Homo sapiens: one gene and its partner. The protein of the gene in region 1 purifies or fractionates together with the protein of each later gene. This does not show direct contact. Each region holds a gene or a part of one and is shown in the gene's direction. Other genes may lie near its edges.

The links.
Region 2: the proteins of RAB7A (region 1) and RIMOC1 purify together in Homo sapiens (affinity purification with western blotting; 2 studies listed by BioGRID, with this or other methods). This does not show direct contact.

Annotation. Positions count from the first base shown.
Region 1 is NC_000003.12:128,729,047-128,732,699, forward strand, and holds part of RAB7A (ras-related protein Rab-7a), read left to right. Parts: intron 1-3,653.
Region 2 is NC_000005.10:41,907,306-41,910,958, forward strand, and holds part of RIMOC1 (RAB7A-interacting MON1-CCZ1 complex subunit 1), read left to right. Parts: intron 1-430; coding exon 431-537; intron 538-2,440; coding exon 2,441-2,587; intron 2,588-3,653. UniProt on the Homo sapiens protein: Plays an important role in the removal of damaged mitochondria via mitophagy by controlling the stability and localization of RAB7A.

The DNA of each region.
Region 1 (3,653 bases):
GGTGGAATGTAGAAGATAGTCTAAAAATAGTTTTATTAGTATATCCTTCTAGGTAGTTAGCAACCACTTGGGGCAATTTTTTTTAAAATTTTTTTTTAGTGCCAACTGTGTCTAAGCTCACCAACCCTGTAATCAGAGAACAACTCTTTATAGTAAAGTGTGGCTTTGAATCAGTTTTCTGACCCCACTGCCAAGTGAAGCCAAAAAATTTTGGTTATTTGATTAGCTTTTAATATGTCTTCAGCTGGGCACGGTGGCTCACGCCTGTAATCCCAGCACTTTGGGAGGCCGAGGCAGGTGGATCATGAGGTCAGGAGATCGAGACCATCCTGGCTAACACAGTGAAACCCCATCTCTACTAAAAATACAAAAAATTAGCCGGGCGTGGTGGCGGGCGCCTGTAGTCCCAGCTACTCGTGAGGCTGAGGCAGGAGAATGGCGTGAACCCAGGAGGCAGGGCTTGCAGTGAGCAGAGATCATGCCGCTGCACTCCAGCCTGGGCGACAGAGCGAGACTTCTTCTCAAAAAAAAAAAAAAAAAAAGTCTTCAAAGGGATCTTCACTAATAACGTTTTTGCTCTTACTTTGGCATTAGACTTTGTAAACAAAGATGTAGCAAACACAGACCACGCAAATATGACAGTTGTCTTATGCACATTCCTCTCTGGCATTTGACACAAATATTTTAGTTTTTCCTATGATAAAGTATTTATCTCCCCATTCATTTAATTCAACAAATACAGCTGAGATAGATTTGACCAGATGTTGGACTTGGAGCTGTAGGCAGGCTTTTCCTGGGGAGGTAAGGATTAGAAGTCCTCCTGAATAAGGCTAAACAGAGGTTCCCCTTGGCATTAAATGTCTTCTTCTGAAGGCGACTGAAACTCGAGAAATGAACTCCCCGCCTCCCCCCTTATTTTTTGGCTATTGGCTTGCTGTTGATGATTCTTACCTCTCATGTAAGGAAGGCTACCATTGTATTCTCAGGCATCCATTCCTTTGTGTTACCACATGCTTATCTGTTAATATTATCTAATAGTTCTCTATGCTTCTCTGTCTGCAGTTTGCTGCAGAAACATTTTTGCAATATGCTGATCTTTTCAGTTATTTGCTCTTAAATCTTCTATTCTGTTTTTCCCCACACTCCATATGGCATTAAAGACAGAAAAATAGTTTGTGTTTTAAAACTTTTTTTTTTTTTTTAGACGGAATCTTGCTTTGTAGCCCAGGCTGGAGTGCAGTGGTGCCATCTCAGCTCACTGCAAGCTCCACCTTCCAGATTCATGCCATTCTCCTGCCTCAGCCTCCCGAGTAGCTGGGACTACAGGCACCCACCACCACGCCCGGCTAATTTTTGTATTTTTAGTAGAGACGGGGTTTCACCGTGTTAGCCAGATTGGTCTTGATCTCCTGACCTCGTGATCCACCCGCCTCGGCCTCCCAAAGTGCTGGAATTACAGGCGTGAGCCACCATGCCCAGCCTAAAACTTATTTTTAAAACATTTCTTAATGGTGGTGGTCACTGCGATTTGTGAATCAGAGGTAAAAGTGATGTGGCGAGTGAAATCAAAACAAGTTTTTTAGCAGTGTCTGTTACCAGTTTCAATTTTAGTATCCCAGGCTGTGATTACAAAAACATATTTAAGAATAGCTACTTGCAAAATATCTCCTTGTGGGAGGAAGAAAGCTTGGGAGTTGGTTCCAATGCTGACCTACAGCATTGGCCTTGTTCATTTGCTTGAAGATGCAGTACTTAACTCATGGGGCCTGGAGTCTCTGTTTTGGTGATGGCATCACTGCTGAGAAATTTAAGTTTGCCTGATTCTGTTGTCCACTTCTGGTGTCCTGGGACTGTCTACAGTTGGGACCAAGCAAATCCAAGGGAGCCTATTTAAGGGGAGCCTGGGACAAGGGCAGTTTAGGAATTCTCCAGCCTTGCTTGTCTCTTAGTTGGTCCTTCTTGTGTGGCTGCTGCCAGATAAAGGAAAGGAAGTTCTCTCTTCTCCCTCAGCCTTTCCTTTCCAGCTTTGCTTCATACTGCTGGGCATTAACCATCTCAGATCAGGAGTCCTTTAAAAGTTACTTAGTGAAGTAAATAGTTACATCATTGATTTCCAATATTGGTATGTAAGTGTAATAAAAAGTTGGTTTCCATTGAATAAGCTTTGTAGTTTGAGTTATTTGAGAGTGCATAATTACAAAGCTGCTATGAATTAACCTTAAATAACCAAGCATAGACTTTATGAAAAATAGTGTCCCTTATATGTGGTATTCAGTCAGCCTACCAACAGTTCTTCTGTTCACTTACAGATATGAGGATCCCTGAGATAACTGCGGGTCATTTAAAACCCACTCTTAAATCCTCTGACCTGCACCATGTTAATGGTTGTTAAAAAAGCGATAACATTTTGTAGAAACCTTCCTACACATTTGCCTTTAAATGCTTTTTAATGTTTCTGTGGTATTTGTAGTTTACATGTGATTTCATTTGGTGCTCACAACTGTTGTGTGTATCTGCCTGAAATAGCTGAGGCTGTATGCTCAGGTGGCTCAGCTGGAATGTCAGTCTAGGTCTGCTAACTCAGTTCAGTGCTCTTTCTGATGTACCATCCTGCCTTTCCATTATATGCTAGTGCCCTAAAGACCACGACATTTCACCCCTTGTAAAAGTGTATCTTTCGGCCGGGGGCGATGGCTCACACCTGTAATCCCAGCACTTTGGGAGGCCGAGGAGGGTGGATCACAGGGTCAAGAGATAGAGACCATCCTGGCCAACGTGGTGAAACCCCGTCTATACTAAAAATATAAAAATTAGCTGGGCATAGTGGCATGCACTGTAGTCCCAGCTATTCAGGAGGCTGAGGTAGTAGAATCGCTTGAACTGGGGAGGCGGAGCTTGCAGTGAGCCGGGATCGTGCCATTGCACTCCAGCCTGGCGACAGAGCAAGATTCCATCTCAAAAAAAAAAAAAAGTGTCTCTTTCTTCCACTACCTTTTTTTTTTTTCTCTCTCTGAGACAGAGTCAAGCTCTGTCGCCAGGCTGGAGTGCAGTAGCATGATCTCGGCTCACTGCAACCTCCGCCTCTCGGGTTCAAGCAATTCTCCTGCCTCAGCCTCCTGAGTAGCTGGGGCTACAGGTGCACGTCACCATGCCCAGCTAATTTTTGTATTTTTAGTATAGATGGGGTTTCACCATGTTGGCCAGGATGGTCTCAATCCCTTGACCCTGTGATCCGCCCGCCTTGGCCTCCCAAGGTGCTGGGATTACAGGCGTGAACCACCACGCCTGGCCCACTACCTTTTATTTAAAATGATACGTCTTTTTTGCTGATTATTAAACTATTCAGTTAAAAAAAAAAAGCTAGGAAAATTCAGAAATATAAAGAAGGAAAATTTGTGATTCACTACCCCGAGGAAGACCAAAGTGTTAACTGGTTATTTTCTTCCTTTGAATGTATACTTTCATACCTTCCTTTAATGAGATTGAACTCTTGGCCAGGCATGGTGGTCAGTACTTTGGGAGGAGTAATCCCAGCACTTTGGGAGGGTAAGGCAGGAGGATTGCTTGAGCCCAGGAGTTCAAGACCACCTTCAGCAACAAAGTAAGACTCCATCTCTACAAAGAAAAGAAAAAATTAGGTGGGTGTGGTGGTA
Region 2 (3,653 bases), on another chromosome or scaffold:
GTCTTTTGAATAACATTTGCAACTACATTTATGAAATCTTAAGTTTTCAGTGGAAGCCCTTTCTGTATATTTATGTATATTATTTGTATATTCCAGTAAGTTTTAAATTTGTTTAATTATTTTGAGTGCATTATCATAAAAGAAGCATAATGAGAATACAGACTGCATTTAAGAAATGGCAAGAGTGACTCTAGAAAGTTTTCAGTATTTTGCTTTGTAGGAAAAATTTTCATGATAAATTTACTTAATTAGGATTAGGCATTATGAGATATTTCATGTTTTAGATAAGATATTATTACTATAATTCTGTTTCTCCATATGTCATAATATTATTTCATCTTGTCATTTCATCTTCATACATAATGTGTTTTTTGTTTAAATAACACTCTGAAACTAGGTGAAGTAATCCTCATGTTTTTATTTCTTATAGATCACTTTTTAATTCGGGCCTCTGCAGCATTAGAAAAATTGAAACTCCTGTGTGGAGAAGAGAAAGAATGTTCAAATCCATCAAATCTTCTAGAACTTTACACACAGGTACTGAAAGAGTGGTGGACTCTGGCATTTTATGAGGGCAGGTTGTTTATTTAGATGATTGACTCCAACTTTAGGTAAAATGAAATCAGTTTATTCTATATTTCAAGTGTTTAATTTTGTCCAAAAAACTATGAATAAAACACAAAAACTTAAAACTTTGAGGTAGTATGAAAAGAAGTAAGATTTATTAGATGTGTTAATAAGAAAAGTCAGGAAGAAAATCTTACAGATAACGGAATTGTTTTCCTTTAGAGATAATTGAACAGGACACTAGTGTGTGCAATGTCCAATCTCTTGAAAGTTTCAGAGGGAGCAGGGGAGTATATAAGGGCCCTGACTTTTTTTTTTTCCCCTGAAATTTACCTTCCCTAGGATTCTCAATATTATTCTCCCTGCTAGTGTCATGCATATCTATGTGATTTTTCTATTCACCCACTTTTTTTTTTAACTTTCCTTTCCAAATCAGGCTGCTGTGTGGACAACACCTTTTTTTCTTGGTTTTCTGAAACACTGCTGAGGCATGCTAACATCAAGAAATGTAATTTTATTATGGTAACTAACATCTATATAGCACTTTGTAGTTGATAGAGTGTTTTCATGTGCCCTTTTTGGATTGCTAAGGGATAATAAAACTGAAGTGGTTACAGAAAGTACAGTACACTTAGTTAGGCTTCCAAAGTGCCCATTTATAGCATTTAAATGCTTGGTGCTGTTCTTCCTGTTAGGAAATTTCTAAAGATAGCTTCTGCCTTCAAACACCATGGATGAGTAAGCCTAACAGCTACTCACAAACCACAGAGAACTGTTTTAAGTTTGGCAGGTATTTTGCTTGGTTTTCTTTCTGTTCAGAAGACTCTGTGCTTGTCTGTATGTGTTTTATGTCATCTCATTTTTTTCACGAGAGTGTTCCAGACATTTTAACTTACTGGAATAAGGCAAAAGACCTAGAGATACAGATTTCAATTTTAAGATCCTCTTAAACCCTATTGATGGTTCTGAATCAACAGATCACCTTTCATATGATGATGAAATCATATATGATGATCTCTCCTTACTGGCTTAGGCCTTTCGCACGATAACATTTACTCCTCATGTTCACAGAAAGTAAAGCACTAACTGGGTGCTAGGTAACGTTTCTAGTACCTTACATATGTTAATTAATTTTTTACTCCAACAAGGAACTTTGAAAGGTATTTTAGTCCAATTTATCATTTAGCCAATTAAGAAACTGAGGCTCAAAAAAGGTAAAATTGACTTGTCTTTGGTTAGTTAAGTGATTAGTGGTAGAACTGACCCTAGAACCCAGTTTCCTTAGTCTTAGTTCAATAGATTAAAAAAGGAAAAAGGATTGGGGAGTTTTAATATGCTTTAACAGCATCTCTAATAATTAGGAATACTGGGGGCTTAGTGTTTGAGTTGCATATGTTGATGGTATGCTTCCTCTATTGGGTGGCAGGATACATACGCCCCTCACGCTGGCTCTGTATTTGGGAACACAAATCCTTTGAAGGTTCAAAACTGGAAGTAGTGACCTTAACTTGATACAGCAGGCATTTAGAAAATTTTCAGGGGTTATATAAGTAGTAGAATATAATAATTACCTTTTTCATAATTATATATGATTAAATTCTGTAAATTAAAACAAAGCTCTATTTTCTTTTTTGAGGGAAAGAAAGATTATCATTAATTCAGCACTTTAGTGAAATACCTATGAAGTTTTCTTTAAAATCTTTCTCAAATTATATTTACATCTAGACATTTTGCCTACTTCTCAAATTTACATACTGAGCTAGAAGATTTAAATGTGTAATAAAGCACCTATGTGTGCAAGGTTAGACTGTAAGAATTGTTTTTTTTCAATTTTAAGTCATTGATAGATATCTTTCTTTTTTTTTTTTTTTAGGCTATTTTGGACATGACATATTTTGAGGAGAACAAGCTAGTAGATGAAGATTTTCCTGAAGACTCTTCTTCACAGAAAGTAAAAGAGCTGATTAGTTTTCTTTCAGAACCAGAAATTTTAGTAAAGGAAAATAATATGCATCCAAAAGTAAGTTTTACATTCCTGTTAATTATGATGGAATATTGCTGGTACTTGCTGTCCTGCTTTTTGGAGTCTATATTTTTTTCTTCTTGATTGTATCTTTGTTTCTTAAATTAAGATTGGAAGAGGGAGATAAAAGAGCTTAACACTTCAGACCAATGTTGCAACAAAAGTATCATATTTTACTAAATGTATTTCAGAATATTTGCATAATAGAATTGTAATAGCTGTGCCTAATCATTTTTTTTAATATAGATATTCCCATTTCGACCCCCTTTACTTTTGCAGATGCTGTTTTCTTGAAGGTCACTATTAATCTAATTACCACGTCTGTTCTTACAGTCCTTATTCTCTCGAACATTTGCTCCCCTTCTTAATGTTGATCACCCCCTCCCTCTGAGACCCTGCATGCTTCTTTTCCACTTCTTCATCTCTGAAATGTCTTCTCTTGCTAGCAACTGTTCTGCCTTCCATTCTAGAAACACAGGTACTAGCCAGGGATGTCTCTTTCATCACCGATAGTCTCTATTCTGTCTTTGCTTGATAACCTGTTCACAGGCTTTGTACTGTCATCTCTATTTGGATAATCCTATGATTTGTATATCTAGTCCTGGATACTCTTTGAAGCAAATAATTTCTCATCTTTAACTGCCTGCTGACTGTTTACTTAGATATATTTTTTTTCTCTATTTATTTATCAGGGGAGGCTGTGGAAACATCTCCAAATTTCAATGACAAGCCACTTTAAAAATTTTGATTTATTAAAATTATTTTTGGGTGTAAATTTTCATTATTTTATTCCAGCGGTAGTAGAAATAGATATGATCTCACTTCAAGTAATGTATTTGTGAAAAGTTACCTTTTTAATGAGATGATGACTGCTTATATTGCAAACCTGTTAGGGGAATTTGCTAGTAAAAATATTTTTTAAATTATTTTGTAAAACTACTAGTAAATTGAAGTTATTTTAATTTTCATGTATTAATAGAATTGCATATTTATAATTGATTGAAAATAAGGCCTCCCTGTGTAAGCAGCTAAACAAAGGGAACATTTTGTGACTTGAGAATGT